Regions from separate parts of the Homo sapiens genome. Here region 1 is linked to region 2. Evidence: fine-mapped expression QTL. A gene starts in region 2. The other region holds a variant in brackets. All regions are shown on one strand. Distances are between the middles of the regions. Region 1 overlaps TSPAN12 (tetraspanin 12). Region 2 holds the start of TSPAN12 (tetraspanin 12).

What was found.
Region 1: its variant is fine-mapped to the expression of TSPAN12 in tibial artery (GTEx, PIP above 0.99).

Annotation. Positions count from the first base shown.
Region 1 is chr7:120,801,069-120,809,415 of GRCh38, forward strand. It overlaps TSPAN12 (tetraspanin 12), which reads right to left. Exons shown (of 8, transcript NM_012338.4): 7 at 5,481-5,624. Among named protein-coding and RNA genes, the nearest start is that of TSPAN12, 53 kb to the right of the region's middle. RefSeq lists a silencer at 4,986-5,035. The variant G/C (reference allele first, on the strand shown) is at 4,012.
Region 2 is chr7:120,854,355-120,862,701 of GRCh38, forward strand. It overlaps TSPAN12 (tetraspanin 12), which reads right to left and starts at 3,790. Exons shown (of 8, transcript NM_012338.4): 1 at 3,466-3,790; 2 at 2,344-2,479. The coding sequence starts at 2,409. It overlaps LOC124901733 (a long non-coding RNA gene), which reads left to right and starts at 2,481. Exons shown (of 2, transcript XR_007060491.1): 1 at 2,481-2,854. RefSeq lists silencers at 2,733-2,952, 3,145-3,444.

The DNA.
Region 1 (8,347 bases), 53 kb before region 2:
AATCACTGTAACCGGCTCCTTATCTTGTCTTTAACAAGTGTCATTAAATGATTTTTTTTTTCTTTAGCAACATGAGCTACCCTCACTTTTAACCTGTAGGAGCACCTCTACAAGTCTGTTTACCTTCTGTGAGCACTGGTAACCCATACACATTTGTCATCATGGGGTTCTTTTTCCTGTAAGCCAAGACTCGGAGAAAAACGTCACATCCCTTCAAAATCACACCCCCTGTTGTTCCCAATTTCCTCTATTTGTCAATGTTTTCTAGCATTGGGAGAAGAAATAAATAAACTTCTAAAGAGGCATAAATGGGTTTGTCAAAGTGGAAATTATTAAGAATATTTAAAACTGTAACCCAACACATGGAACACAGAAAGTCTGAGGGTCTAAAGGAAAAGTGTCCCAAAGGCACACAAGTGTGGAGGACATGTCTGTGTCCAGCCCTTACATAAATCTGTGGGAATACTACTTTTCTGAAGAAGCAGCCAATATATTTGAACAGTAGTCTTTCTTCTAACTACTAGACAAAGAAATGTGTCTCTGGAGGTATATTTTAGTTGACGTTCTGTCCCTCTTTGTTTTACATTTTGAGTCAGTCCATTTGAAGCAGGGCCTATTGTGAGCCTGTTTACTTCCATTTATTTTTCTTGAGGTAGCACACAGAGGAGTAAAATGGCATTTCAGCCTTTTTGAGGGGCTACTTATGCTAAGTTTCCTATCTGAGACAGTAAGTGCTGCAACTATTCTTTACAACTGTGTTTTCTTATTCTCTTACATATGGAACCCCAAGAAGAGTTGAGGAAAGCTATGGCTCTTATTTCCTGGAAAAAAAATGGATATAAAATATTGAAAACAATTTTTGCAGTATCATTTTTTCCTTGAAGTCCATCCAAGAAGAGCCCTGGTCCATGGGCAAGAGGTTGAGTGTCCCAGCTCTATAAAGACTTATTTTCTAACTGCTGTCTTTTATGTCTTTTATTTATGCTTCTCTTCTCCAGATCAAGTCAAGACACTGCACTTCAGTAACTGATATGATGAAAAACTCAGCAGGTGAGAGAAGACAAGAGATACCATAGGCTTGTGCTTTGCCAACTTAAACTCTGAGTCTGATATTTTGCCAAGGCCAAGTCTTACACCTCGCATTTAGAGTGTGGTTACACAGGTGATTCCAAAGAACAGGGGAGTGGGCTGTCAGTAATCACGGGCCCAGACCACCCAAGGGTGGGCCTTTATACTTGCAGTTTCCTCGGCCCAAAACACTGTTCCCCAGCATGGGTGCTTACTTTTTGTCAACTGGTCTCAGTTCACATATCACCTCCTAAGAGGGCCTATTCCTAACAATCTATCTTAAGTAACTCCCTCACCAACAAAGCTCCAGCACATTACCCTGTTCAGAGTCTTCAAAGTGCTTACCACCACCTGAAATTATTTTCTATTGCTGTTTTTTTTTCTTGTTAAACGTATGTATCCGTAACTAGAATATAAATTACATAGGAGAAGAGATTTTTGTCTGCAACACTCTCTACTATATCCCTAGCATTTAGAAGAGCAAATGGAACCCAGTAGGCAATCACAAAATATTCTGAATGAATATTGGTTATCGTATCATCATTTTGAATGAGTGAATGTGATAGATCCAAACTGAGGGTCAGAGGTATTTTCATTATAGATTTTTAAACCTATACTTTAATACAAGTTTGTAGCTTATTATGGATATTTGAAGAGCTGTGTGCCAAACCTAACAAGGCTCCTGAATGTTTCTAAATGTGCAATTGTCGCTATATTTCTGCTGTCATTTTTCACAGGTTTCCAAATGCGTCATAAAATATTATTGGGTCAGGGACCATGCAGGCTACCAGATGGTTGAGAATGATTTATTTCCTTGACTTCAGACTACTGAAGAATGATTGCAGGAAAAAAGCCAGTTTTTATCTCTGAGCTTACAGAATATGAAAGATAAGAGAGACCTTGCGGTTCATCTAGTCTGGATTCATTCTTAATTTAAAAACCCATTCTACACTACCAATGACATGGTTATCTGACCTTGACTTCAATATTTTTAGTGATGAGACACTCATTATTTTACAAGATAACCTGTCTCACAATTGGATGGATTTTGATGAGCAAGGTCTTCCTTCTATTGATTCAAAATTTCCTTCCTGTAACTTCTGGCCCTTGGAGCAACAACGTGTAAGTCTAGTTCCTGTTCTGAATTATGAACTTTGAAATATTTGAACACATCTCAACTATCTCCCTTCAGTGCTCTCAACTTCTGAATAAACATCCCAAATACCTCCAGCTGTTCCTCACTTATTTCTCCTTTTGGAACCCTCATCTTCCTACTGAATGATCTCTGGACACACCGTAATTAGGAAACATATGTTCTCCAGGGCAAAGTAGAATTATGTCTTATTTTTAATTATGGATTTAATTGTACTTATGCCATAAAACTACTAAATGATCCTCTTTTGTAAATCAACTATACATATAATTGCATACTGTATAATTACCAATATCAGCATATGTTATTAGTTGTAAAATGCAAAAGCAGGTTACTCTGATATAATAAGCCCCCATCTTAGCTGGAAGTCTGTGTCTAAAGAACATCTCATGGCTGACAATGCCAGCTTGCTATTAAAATTCTTCAGATAAAAATATGAACAAATTTCAAAATAATCTGGGCTATCAACTTGCACATGCACAATAGTATGGCTTGTTTCAATTTCAAAATTCATGGAGCAAGCAATTATAGATATCCTAAAAGTAAAGCATCCCTTTATAAAGTAGTATTATTAGTGAAAACAATCTAAGAAAAGCAGTGAGGATGAATTGCAGTTTTACAACAATAAAATTATATTAAATGTTTAATGTGGAACAGTCTTCAGCTAAATAAAGCAAAACTGAAGAGAATTAGTCCATATTCAGACTTTATGGGAAGATCCGGTAAGTTGATCTCATGATCAATAGTAGTTATAATCATATCATCAGTATTAATCACTAAAGCAGATACAAATTATACCATAATGTTGTGGCCCAATAATTGTCCATATTGACTCGCTACCAGTAAAAACTAACAAATGGACAATTCACACTAGGAAATTTGGTAGGTTTCAATTTACACATCTATACTTCTAACTATACTGTAGCCATCTGTTCTTTTAATGTCTAATAGTAAGTTATAGTATATTTGAATATCCATAATATGTTTATATGTAATACTACCTCAGAAATATTAGTACTGTTTTCCGTTTTATGGAATAAGCAGGAGTTTGCCGCATTTATTAGTTGATGATTCCTACTACAGACACTAGCCAATATTCAGCTTTCACCCAAAACAAAAGAACTAGGTTCAGTGCCATAATCACTGAAGAACCTACAGACACTAACCTACAACAACTTTCTGTTCAATAAACTATATTTTGTATATTCCTTTTCATTCAAAGCCAAATGTTTCTAAACAAAGTATGTATAAAACAATAACATCCAAACATAATGCTTCTCAGCAGTGTGAGCATGACAAAAAGTATTCTGATCATCTTTTAAAATAAAAAGCCTGAATTATTCAACTGTTTGAATAATTCTTGTGATTGGTTGGATTATGTCCTCCCAAAATTCGTATGTTAAAGAGCTTAGTACCTCAGAATGTGATCTTATTGGAACATAGGATTGTTGCAGATGTAACTAAGATGAGGTCCGACTGGAGGACAGTGGGCCCCTTGTCCAATATGACTGTTGTTCTTATAAAATGGGAAAATTTGGAGACACACAGACAAGGAAAACACCATGTGAAGATGAAACAGATCAGGGTGATTTTTCTAAAAGACGAGGAACCAGGAAAATTGTCAGCACACCACCAGAAGCTAGGGGAGAAGCATGAAATAGATTTCTCCTCATGGCCCTCAGAAGGAATCAACCCTGCTGACACCTTAATCTTGGAGTTAGCCTCCAGAACACTGTGACAATAAATTTACGTTGTCAGAGCCACTCAGTTTGTGGGACTTTGTTATGGCA[G/C]CTCTAGGAAATTATAACAATTTTTAAACTCCTAAAAAATACTTGGCACTCTCCTTTGGGGCATGCCTTCAGAGCCCAAAGCACTTTATTTTGGATATCCTTAAATGGTGACATATTCTTGTCTTCTGAGATATGAGTAACAGCCCAGAGTTACTCATATCTATGAATATAATGGATCACTTGTATAGGTAGTACAGCATTCTTTTAATTAATTACAACATCCAAATTAATTAATTTACAATATAAATTGACTGCCCATCTCAACAACTGCCTTTGGCAGAGAGTCTAAAAGATGTTTTGAATGGTAGTATTCTTAGGAATAAAAAGCATAACCTCCTAAGATAACCACCTTGAAATATATCAAAATGCAGGTGTTATAAATCCTGTTGCTTTGTTTTAAATTTTCATTCTTTATAGCCCTACTATATATACATGAGTTATATTATGAATAGTGTGAGCAGTGCCTTGTGATACCAGGTACTTGACAAGAGGTGTATGTGGGGAATGATCCCAACCCCTTAGCCTAAGCAGTTTCCTTTCTATCTGATTCACATTTTACATTTCCATTCTAGATAAAGACTGCCTAACAAAACTTTATGTGATGATAGAAATGTCTTACATCTGCATTGTCCAGGACAGGGGCCACTAGTCACAAGTGGCAGTTGAGCACTTGAGATGTAGCTAGTGCAACAGAGGAACAGATATTTTAATTTTAATTAATTTTAATTCAAATGGCCACACGTAGCTATTTGGCTGCTGTAGAGGACAGTGCAGTCTTAGATTTTAATCTGAAAATAGAATTTTACTGCTAACAAAGTCTGAAAATAATCAGTAAAAATGAATGAATAGGAAAACTTCTGCTAAAATGGAGTAATTGATTATTCTGATCAATTCTCCCAGAAAACACAAGTATGTAAATTTCCTGGCCACATGAGGATTGACTTTACCGCCACTGAGCATAAAACTTAATCAGTGAACTAAAACTGACATCACTAATCATTAGCCAGCAGGGGGAGCTGGAGAGTAGCATGGTAGCATTTTCTTTGGAGAGGTTCTTTTTTTTCCCCTTCTATGTGTTGGTGGTCTATGTGGAGGCTCTTAAAATACGTATTCTGTCCAGGAACTCCAAACCCTCTGCTTCTTGCACATCCAGTGTTAGCTACATACTCTGCCTGTGTCTGTTTCAAAGGATCCCCAAGCAGTAGGAACTTGATTCAAAACAAAACAGTTCAAAATCCAATTAATTACAAAACCTGGTCTTTCCCACTTCCCTTTATTAAAATGTGATTAATGTTTAGATTTTTATATTGTTTTTTAGCTTTCTTCTGCTTCTCCCCATATTAGAGAAAAATTTTAAGGCCTTTTACATTTAGACAGAGAAGGAAAATTTCATTGGCATATTGTTGATTCTTTAAAGTTATTCCTAAGAAAACATTTATCCATAATAAATTAACCATATATGGCCTCACCTCTTGATAAAGGTCACTGAGATCTTCCTGGTGGGCCTGTTTGGAACATCCTGGGAATTCTCTAACACAGCAGGAATCTGGGGGCCAGTCCATCTCTGTCATTTCCAACCAGTCAGTGAAATATACTACTCCACAGCACTTAAACTGCAAAAAAAATCACTAGTCAGCCTCAGAAACCACAAAAATATTTTCTTAACTTATAGGAGATTAAACATCAGTTTTTTAAAATTTTTGTACCCAGAGCTATATCTGTCATCACCTAATGATATATGTACAGTCTATGTTGATGATAGAAATGTAGTAAAGGAACACCATGGCTAACGATTGCATAATGGAAGTATTCTGAGTAATAATGCCCATAACACATAAAAACAAATCAGGCATGACTGAGACTCACTCCCTAACTGTAAGCTCATCTACAAGTGACTATACATAGCAACAGATTGAACATACACACTAACAAACCCAAGTAGGTGACACTTTAATCATTAAACCTCTAACCACCAAAGGCCAGTTAATCAAATTTTTCTATTGCCCAACATATTCAAATATTATATTAAAAGTTTCTGTAATCTTTGTAAAAACATGTGTTGACCAAAGCCCACATCACAAAAAGTTAGCAGACATCGATTCCTTAGCTAGTAAAATATCCAAAAACTTTAAGAAATAAACATAGGTCTGGCCAACTGGTGTTTATTCAACTGAGTAAGATTCTTGAAATAAATGTTCATATTCTATTACCATAATCTCAGAAGAAATGGTGTGTGTGCCTTTAGCTTGAATAAAATTGGATTTAAGAAAAACTATACTGACATTTTTACTTTTTTATCTTATTTCTCCAAAGATTAGCAAAAACTGTCTCTGATCAAGGTTTGGAAACACTGCTTAAGGACCTCTATAGATTAGATTCAGAACAATTAACTATGATGAATAATTTTCTGTCCTTGAGTGGAGAAGGAGGTTGCTCTTTCCCCTCTAGCCAGAAACAAGGACTATGGGCAGTCACTGAGAACTTTGCCAAGAGTGACTGGCTATGCAAATTATGCAGTCCAACAGATCAATCTATGTCCAGGTTTGACATTGCATCATAAAATATCACAATCCCCCACCATTTCAAAATTTAACTAAAATTAACTTTGAAGAATTCCGAACTTCTCATGCAAAAGGAAACAATGAAAATACCACAAAGTATTTTGCGTTGTTACACTGGCCTAAATGTCTGATTTTTAAACAGAAAAAAAAATCATCTTAAGAGTATTATAAATGACGAATTACTGAAAGCTATGGGTAATACTGAAATTTTGAGAAACTTAAAAAATACTTTATATATATTTTTCCTTTTTAAACTTGCTCTCAAAGTCATGAGTATACTATAAACATCACAAATTTAGTCAATAATTTGATGTCACATATTTTACATAAGACATTAAATATCCTTAAATAATATATGTAGTATAAAGACTTCACTTCATAAAAATCATAAACAAGGAAAGGTTAACTTTCCAAGTCCATCTTTTTAAATTCTTGCACTCAAAGAAAATCCATTTGTCTCCTTTGCTAATGACATGAGTCCTTTCTGTGTTGATGACAGAACAGTTCTTGGAACTCTCTAGCTCCATCCAGCAAGGAACAGCCTATTTATATGGCTTTGTCAGGAAATAAGATATTCTACATAAATGACTTTCTCAAATATAAGTATATAATGTTCTTTCTCATTATAAGTATACGATGCTCAGTGCTGAACTTACTTTTATTTTAGAAAGCATTTGTATATAATTGTCCTTCTTCAACAGAAGATAATGAATTTATTCTGAAACTTTTTCTGAAAACTCCTTTAAGTAAGCCCAACATCATACCAACATATTACTGTGGTCTACATCTCCTTGTCATTTTCCTGTCTACTTTAATATCATATTGTGAGATAGTACTACTCTTGCTAATGTGTCAAGCTCTAGAAAATACCATCCATTTTACATATGAGTAAACTGAGGCCTTTGACAGTCAAGTAGCTTGCTAAAGTTACAGGCCAGAGTGTGGCACAGTCTATTCCAAAGCCTATGCTCCAACTACTATGTTAAAATAAATAAATAAACACATTTTTTAAAGTTAGTATTCTAAAAACGTATTAAACAAACGTCACTGGGGCTTAAGTGAGAGTCCGCTAAGTTGCGGTATGTGCATAGAATTGCACTGAATGAGGAGCAAAGGAGACTGGCACCTGATAAAGTTGCTTTCTGCAATACAGGTTATTCTAGAATTGGGTCCCCCACCCAAATGCATATGTTGAAATTCTACCTCCCAGTACCTTAGAATGTGACTGTATTTGGAGATAGAGTTTATAGAGATTGTTGAGTTAAAATAAGGTCATTAGGGTGGGCCCTAATCCAGTATGACTGATGTACTTATTAGGAGAGGGTATTTAAATATATATATATATTTAATATATATATGGAAGACATAGTGAAGACACAGGGAGAAGATGGCCATCCGCAAGCAGTCATTGCAAACTAATATAAGGGATATAAGGGATTTTAAAAACCTCAGGTTCTCAGAAGTCTTCACCATCTCCATTTACATAAAATAGTCTTATGATAATGGAGGAGGAAACTTACCATGTAACAAATCTAAAAATAAGTGTGCTATCATTTGCAGTACTTGTACATTGTCCATCTAGGTGCAGCTTCCATCAGAAAAAAACTCACTTTGTTTTTTAACCTGGATTATCACTGTCTACATCACAAATTCCAGAAAATAACGAGCTCTGGGCAGCATCTACTCAGGACAGTAGCTGACATAACTTACTATAAATTTCCTAATGCTTATTTTCTCTTTGTGTTGTTTTTAGCACAAATATACAATAAATAAAC
Region 2 (8,347 bases):
CTCCTGGTAATCTGCTAGAACATCATCATCATTGTAGTAGTTATAGTAATAACTGCAATACTGCTATTGCAGAGATAGCACTTATTATGTGCCACTGTTCTCAGCGCTGTATATATGTTAACTCTAATCCTCCTCACAACTCTAAAAGATAGGGAACTATGATTCCTATTTTACAGGCTAGGAAACAGACACTAAATGTGCCTGGCAAACATAGTAAGAAGCGTTAGCTATTTTGTATGTTAGTTAGATAGGTTGGCTACTTTTGTTTTTGTTGTTGTTATCACATACTTTTTTACATAGCAATTCCACTCCTATGACTCTAACCCAAATGAGAAACTAATTTAACAGCAAAAAAATCAAGAATTTACATGTATAGCATTGTGTATCTGTTGTGGACAGGTATGAGTAAATCTATCTTTGTATGAAACAAAATAAAGAAAAACGTATACAAGATGCTTAACCTGGATTATTTTGTTGAAGCGTAGGTGATATTGGGAGAAGAGGAGGGCTGGAGAAATAGGGAAGCAATCTAAATAAGTCAATAAACCAGAACACACTCACACACACACACCACACACAAACATAGAAAGTTAGAAGGTTTAAGTACAGGGTAACAACAAAGAAATAACGTTTACATTCTCTGGGGACACAAAGAGCCCTGGAAGAGTTTCAGGAATAGGTGCTTTTATGCAAATTTCATTTCCAAGAGGAGTGATATTTTTGTTGAATGATTTGGTTCTTTTTTCCCACACAATGTAAAGTATTAACAAATTTTTCAAAGCTTTATTCTTTATTAAACAACAACAACAACAATCTTAGTAATTCTAAGGTTCAAAACTCAGTAAGGGTCAAGTGAAAGACACTGTCTAGGGGCAAGAAAGCTGAATTCTGTTCCTGGCACTGCCACCATTGGACTATCTGATCTTTGGCAAGTCACTTAATCTGCACTTAATTTCCTCACTCACAAAGGAAGGACGTTCAACCAGGCCATCTTTAAAGCTCCTTTTAGAAGTGGAATGTGATGATTCTATAATTAAAAAGCACAATGTAGAAAAGTGAAAAACTAGTAAACAGGAGTGATAATTATCATACATCTTAAAGAAATGGAGTTTAAACTCTTAATAACTTTTAATGATCCAGGTAATTTAATGATTCACTTAAAAATCAAGCTTTTAAGAAGTATAAACTACAATAAGATCAACTTGTGATTTTACATTTCCAAATGGTGAATTTAACTACCCAATGCTTTAATTTTGAGAAATTAATGCTTTAATGTTGAGAAAAGGAATGCTGCCATTTTAGATATTTTCAGATTACTCACTGAAGTAAGACTTAATTTATCCTTTAAAATGGGGCCATCTATAAGGTGCAGTTCAACCTAAATGTCATCTTCTAGAGACCACATGTAATAGCCCTATGAAAAAAAGGCTGGGCAATGCCAGCCAGTCAGCACGCCAGCCAGTCAGCCACATAAATAAATTGCACAATAAAATTTGTAACAGAAAATTTTGAATAAAATTATTAATAGAACACAAAAAAATGGAAAGAACAATTTGCTTAAGAATGGCAGCCTCCTGAAGCAACATTTACTGTTTAAATTGTTACATTTTCCTAAGTTTTATAAGTAATAATACGATTATTAATCATACTTTATTAAGATTTAAAGCATAAAAAGTCATTAACTCATAGGGCATAAAGATTTCCATGAGCTTGTTACATTTTATGTATTTTATTTCCTTAAATGGTTATGGGATTTTCCAAAAGCATACACACAATTCCTTAAACTTTGCCAACTTAGAATTAGTTACATAAAAATCACCCTTCAGACCGTATGGAATCCCCTAGACAAATCTACTCAGCCTTTCTGTGATAGGTTATCTGGGTGTGAATTCCACCACCACCTCCCCCTCGTCCCCGCCCACAAAAAATATATTAAGACTTGGCCCAACTAGATTTTACAGGCGACAGAGATGTAAAGAAACAATTTATGGCTTGCACAATTATCTAAAATTCCCGCAAACAAGCAGTTCCCTAAGTAGTATGTCATAATTTTCTTATCTATGAGTAGAAGCACGTGCATTTATTTATATCCCTAGATTAACTTCAAGTCTAATTTTACTGCCAGTAGTATCCAGGGGTGGATTTCTTTGTTCTAATTACAAATGGAACTTGAGCTAGATCAAAGGCATTTTAAGAAGGTCAAATTTTACTTCTCTGAAAAATAAAGGGTGTTATCCCATGTAATTAATTAATGCTTAGCCATGCCCTTTGGCGCATTATCCGGTGGCTGCAGAAAACCAGAGCCAGCCGTTCCCACCTGTTGGTGCAGTGAAACTTACTTACCCAAAAGAGCAGATTGAGGGCGTAGAGCAGGCAGCGCAGACACTTCACGGAATCTTCTCTGGCCATTGTGAGCCCCGTAAGGGAGAAGCCCCATCCTTTCACCACATCCTACTCCCAAGGGCAAAACGGCAGCGATCTGCAGGGGGCGGGGGAGAGAGAACACGGGACATCTCACCATCACGCTTCCCACAGCCTGCCCGTCCCTCCTCCACCCGCCCTCAGCAGGGTCCAGAGGGTCCCGAGGCCCAGTGCATTCGAGACATCGCCTCATCAAAAATCATTTGTTAAAATCATAATGGTAACTAAACTCCCAAAAGTTCCAAACCGGCTTCAGATAACACCTGCTGGGAAAAGAAAAGAGCAACTATCCGGATGAATGAAGTCGCACAGTAAACTCGCGTTCTCAGGGGACACGCGGCGGAGCCCTGTGCATTCTGATGAGACGCTCTTGAAAACCTCCCTCACTCCACGCCCCTCCTCGAGGACAGCTGTGCTCGGCACTGTCCTGAAGGTGAGAAACCACACTGCCCCCTACCCCGGACACGTCAGAGGCGCCACCGGCAAGCCCGAGAGAATGAGCGCCCTTCTAGTTAGGACAGTTCCTGGGCACTCCAACTCCGCACCCCTCTACCCCGTCCCGCAGCTCGGGTGTGAATGCAAGGGACTGGGGCGGCGGGGCGGGGGCGGGGGCGGGGGCGAGGGGGCAGCGCGGAGTTGAGATTCCGCCCGGCTACTAGGGTTTCTCTGGGAGAACGTGAGAAATGATGTTTTCGGCCCCAGAATGATGGATTAGCCTGGGACAGTGGGCGGGGGGCGGGGGGCGCCGGGGAATTAGGGCCGATGCAGCTGTGCAGACGCCGGGTTAGTCATTCAAACCCCGCTTCCCCCGCCCGGGACGCTCCCGCGACCCCTCGCTCAAAGCCGCCCGCGGAGCACAAAGCGAGCGCGGCCACCGACCCAGCCATCGCGTCCGCGCGCCCCCGGCAGGGCGCGAGGGGAAGCGCCGGCGGCAGGGAGCCCCAGAGCCAGCCCTTAAGTAGTTTAGCACACAGCGCGGAGGGCAGCCGCCGGCGGGCTGGCGGGACAGCGGGCAGGAAAGGCGACAGACGCGTGGCCACTTACCGTCGGCGCTGGGCCCGGTGCCCCACGCCCGCCTGGGGATAGTCGGGGACGCACGGCGGGGGCTCATCGGGGCAGGGAACTTCTTCGCGGAGAGCCGGAGGGCTGCATTGGCTTCAGCTGGAGACGCTTCTTTCTCTTCCTCTCCCCCCGCCGCCGCCGTCGCCGCCTCCTGGGAAAAAGAAAAAAAAAAAAAAAAGTCCTGGGCAGCAGTTGCTGGAAAGTCTCTGCTAAGCCACCTCCCAGCGCCGCTGTCCCTCCCAAGTCCTCTCCGAGTCCGGACGAGGCAGCGGCGGCAGCCAGGGCCAGCTGCACAAACTCTCAGCGCATGCTCGAGCCGCTGGCTGCCGGGGTTGGGTCCTAGTGGGTGTTTCTTGTCCCTCTCACCCAGCGAGAGTCCCCAAAGGGACGCTTCACCTCTGCAGGATAGGGTCCAGAAGATAATGCCTAGGAACTTGGGAGAAGTCCGTGCAGTAAATCCCTTTAAAATGGTGGCGTCGAAGGAATGGAGGCTGGGTTATAAGCATAGAGAAGCAGGCTTTTATTATATGATAATATTTGTGTTTGAGAAGGGGGGTGAAGGGGTGGCCCAACCCAATTCCTGCAATGAGAAACTAGTTTTCACAACCTTTATGGAGCCACCTCCTGTGATTTGTTATTAACATGGTGCCCTATGATCCTTCTTATTGCTTTGTTGCCCTCCCGGATTTTTTTTTTTTTAAGTTCTTTCCCACTTTCATAGTGCACTAATAGCATTTACGGAAACATCAGAGTAATCATGTGCAGTCTGACATGCAGAAGAGGAGGAAAGAACATTTTTAACTCTTAGAAGTAACTCAAGCTTTCCAAAATTTCTCACGATAAGATTGTTTTGAGTTAACTGGGTGATTTATTTTGAAATGTGTACATAGTAGTGGATCTTTGGAAAATCTAATTTTTTTAAACTAGAAATTCATGAAGTATTACACAGCAGGAGACCATCCTTCCAAAAGAATCTTCCCTTTTAGAAGACAGAAGTTTCACACTAAATAAAATGCCACTGGATCATATCCTCCACATAAAATGTGGATGTGTTGTGCTATGCCTCACAGTACTGCTCATTTCTAGGATTACTTTTGTGGGCACTGCATGGCAAATAAAACTTCACCAGCAAATATGAATTACCTGGAATACGAGCAACATCTTTGACCTAATAACTGGAGTCCTTGGATTTCCTTGCAGAAAAAAAAAAAAAAAAAAAAATGGAATCCTATGTCCATGACTGCCTGTCTAGAGTTAGTTGCTGCATGACTGGAGTGACAATAAGACATGCAGTCTCATATGGAAAAGTCAAGACCAAAAGACAACATGGTTGTCCTGGGTTAGGCTAGGAAAATTATTGGTAAGCAAGTCACTAAGCAGTATGTAAGACAGCAACCCAAAAGAGTATAAAGAAGTATAGCCATACACAAAAAAAACACCAAGAAACATGTCCAGTTATCCATCAGATGACTCCAACTCTGATAATGAAGCAGCTTCTAGAATACTGGGGAAGAGCAAAGAAACCCACTTTTATCCTCTGCCAGTTTCTTCTCAAATTAGGGTGCATGCCTATTTTAAGCAAAGGACTGCTGAAACAACCAGCCATCCAAATGCTGTTGGTGCCATACATTCCCCGGAGAGGTATAAACATCCCCGCATTGAAAGGAGTCCATGACTGCTATTAAAACTGAGAAAAAGAGTGCCAACAATTCCCATGTGTCAAAGCAGAGATCCTCTTCTACTCCTAGAAGGTAGTTAAGTGCCCTTTCCTTAATTCGTATACCTTTAAGGGTCAACTGCCTTAAAGTAATAAAATACTAGAGGAAGTTACTTTAGAAGTATGCATGTCCTCTTCTTCCTGGTAAACAAGAAATACAGATCCAAGATAAAGTAGTTGCTCAACGTCACATCTGTAGTCCAACCTAGATTCCAAAGTAAAATCCAGAATAATGGCTCTTAGTACTCTAGTTTAATGGTTCTCGAAATTGTTGTACACGAGAATCACTTGGAGAGCTTTGAAACAACCCTAATTCTCTGGCATGCCTGATACCACTTAAATCGGAGTCTCTGCAGGTGAGGCCTAGACACACAGGGTTTTCCAAGCTCCCAAGGTAATTCTAGTTTGCAGCAAAATTTGAAAACCCTGCAACGAGGGCTTTACAGCTGCCTAAAAACTAGCAAAAGGGTCTCTTTAGATTTCGTTGGATCAAATCCCTCTCCTGTGAGTCGATAAATTGGGATTATTATCCCCATTTTACAAGTTAAGAAGAAAACAGAGCTGTAGTTACTGCTCTAATATTCCTGATAAATGGTCATCAGAGACAGTGAATCAACATTTCAGTAGAGGAGACCTCACCACATTTGAGACATTGCAGTAATGGGCAGTTTTTATTGCTTAAACTTGACCATACCACCTTTTAACTTCTACCCTTCAACCTTAGTTCCGCCCTTGGAGTCCATGGCATGAGCAAGCCTTCCTCCCATATGACAGCCCTTCAACTACTTGAAGGCAGCTGTTCTTCCCTCCCTCTCCAATTCTTCTCTTTCCCAGAATTGTGGAAGCACAGTAAGACTTCACATCGCAGCTGTCATTCTGAGGGTTCTATATTTTTCTCTGTGAGATCTGTTTTTTTGTGTGTGTGAACAAAAGGAGGATAGAAATATCATAATATGCACATAAAAATTTGAATATGTAATAACATATTAGGAAAATTGTATGGTCTATTTACTACCCATTAGTCAGGAACCCAATTCTGTGGCCAGGTGTTCTCCAATAAGTATCATTTCAGTGGTGGTATCTACTGTGCCTCATGCTGAAGATACTAAGACAAGTTCTTACCCTCCAAGAAAAGGCAAAACTATCCTTTCTTATTATATAATAATAATAACAATAATAATGACATCAAAAAGTAATAAAATAAGCATTTACAAGGAATCACATACATGTCAGTCCCAGTGTCAGGAGTAAAACTCAGCTATATGTAAGAGAATACAAGTTCCTCACTCCGTATGGCAGCTTGTTTGTTCATATCTTATTCTATTCATTCTGCTAAAGTTGTGGAGAGAAAAAGGATAACACAGGAGTTTGGATGTATGAGTTGCTATTCCTTCTTAGTACAAGACCCTCACAAGTACTCCTAAGCCAGTACTTTACAATTAATATGGGATAGACACCTAATGTGTTTTGAACAAATTACATGTGTCTGACATAATAGGTGCTTCTCACAATTTATCTTATTAATTCCTCATAACTATATGTTGAGATACTTGAAATCAATTCAGATAGCTGATTTTTGCCAGACCCACACAGGTAGTAAATAAAGAAGCTGAGATTCTAAGATCTGTCTGATTCTTTCCACTGTTTATCTGCATTACAATAAAATTTCAAATCTGGTTGGACAAGACTTAAGAGGAAAATTTTCGAACTTTTTAAAGTTAGTTTTCGAGAATATGAAGCTGAAATTCAAATATGTGTACTTAAACTATGACTGGTAAATCTACTTTCACCTCACTTCTAAAAGAGTATACAGACCTAATAAGACCTGAGAAAATCCTTTCATTACTGAATTAAGTAGACTGCTTTCTACTGTAAGCTTAGGATTGCCAGATAAAATACAAGACACCTCATTAGATTTAAATTTCAGATAAACAACAATTTTTTATTTTTTGGTATAGGCATGTCCCAAATGTTGCATGGGACAAATATTGCACTGGACATACATATACTAAAAAATTATTCAATGTCTACCTGAAATTCAAATTGAATTGCAAACCCTACATTTGTATTAGTTGAATCTGGCCTCCCTATGCAAACTAGCAAATGCACTCAAAGAGCCACAAAAACAAATATGTTTCACATAACAATGAGTCCAGGAATAGCGATTCATCTGCCCAGTAGTGATATCAAGGAATCAGTTCTTTTTCCTCCTTACTCTCCTGACACACACAATGAGTAATCATACTATACTCAGGTACCTCCTCTTATGGTCACAAGATGGCTGTGCAAATTCAAGCATCATTTTCAGTTACCATTACTTCCAAAGGAAGAAGGTATTTTCTCCTATGAGTTTCTCTTAGGATCTAGCAAACCTCTCCCAGGAGTTCTGCAGCAGATTATCCCTTTGATTGATTGGCTAGAACCTGGTCACATACTCATATATCTACCAATTATTCACAAGAACTATGGTTCTACCATAACTGGTTTGTTTTGTTTTGTTTTGTTTTGTTTTGTTTTGTTTTGTTTGAGACAGAGTCTCACTCTGTCACCCAGGCTTGAGTGTAGTGGCTCCATCTCTGCTCACTTAACCTCTGCCTCCCGAGTTCAAGTGATTCTCATGCCTTAGCCTCTCGAGAAGCTGGGACTACAGGTATGCACCACCACGTCGTGCTAATTTTGTCTTTGTAGAGACAGAGTTTCACCATGTTGCCCAGGCTGGTCTCAAACTCCTGTCCTAAGGTGATCCACCCACCTCAGCCTCCCAAAGTGCTAGGATTACAGGTGTGAGCCACCATGACTGGCCAGGTTTTAAACCAATCAAGATGTATTACCTGTGCCTGGGACAGCCCTTCTCTAAAGCACAGGGCCAAAGAGAGGAAGGTAGATAACTGAACACAGTCAGATTTTTATTTGAACTGAGGGATAGAGAAAGGAAGGCATAGTACCATCCTCTCTCCTGTTCACTGCTAGGACAACCCAGCTCTCAGCCAACCATTTTGGGGCACTACTTAGCAAAGTTTCTTAGTTATTGAAAGAACCACTGAAGCAGGAACCTCATGGCAATAGCAAAGGACCCTGAGAAAACTCGTATCACATCATTTCCATCCCATGCCATAAGCTTACTTTCAGCATCGTCATTTGCATTTA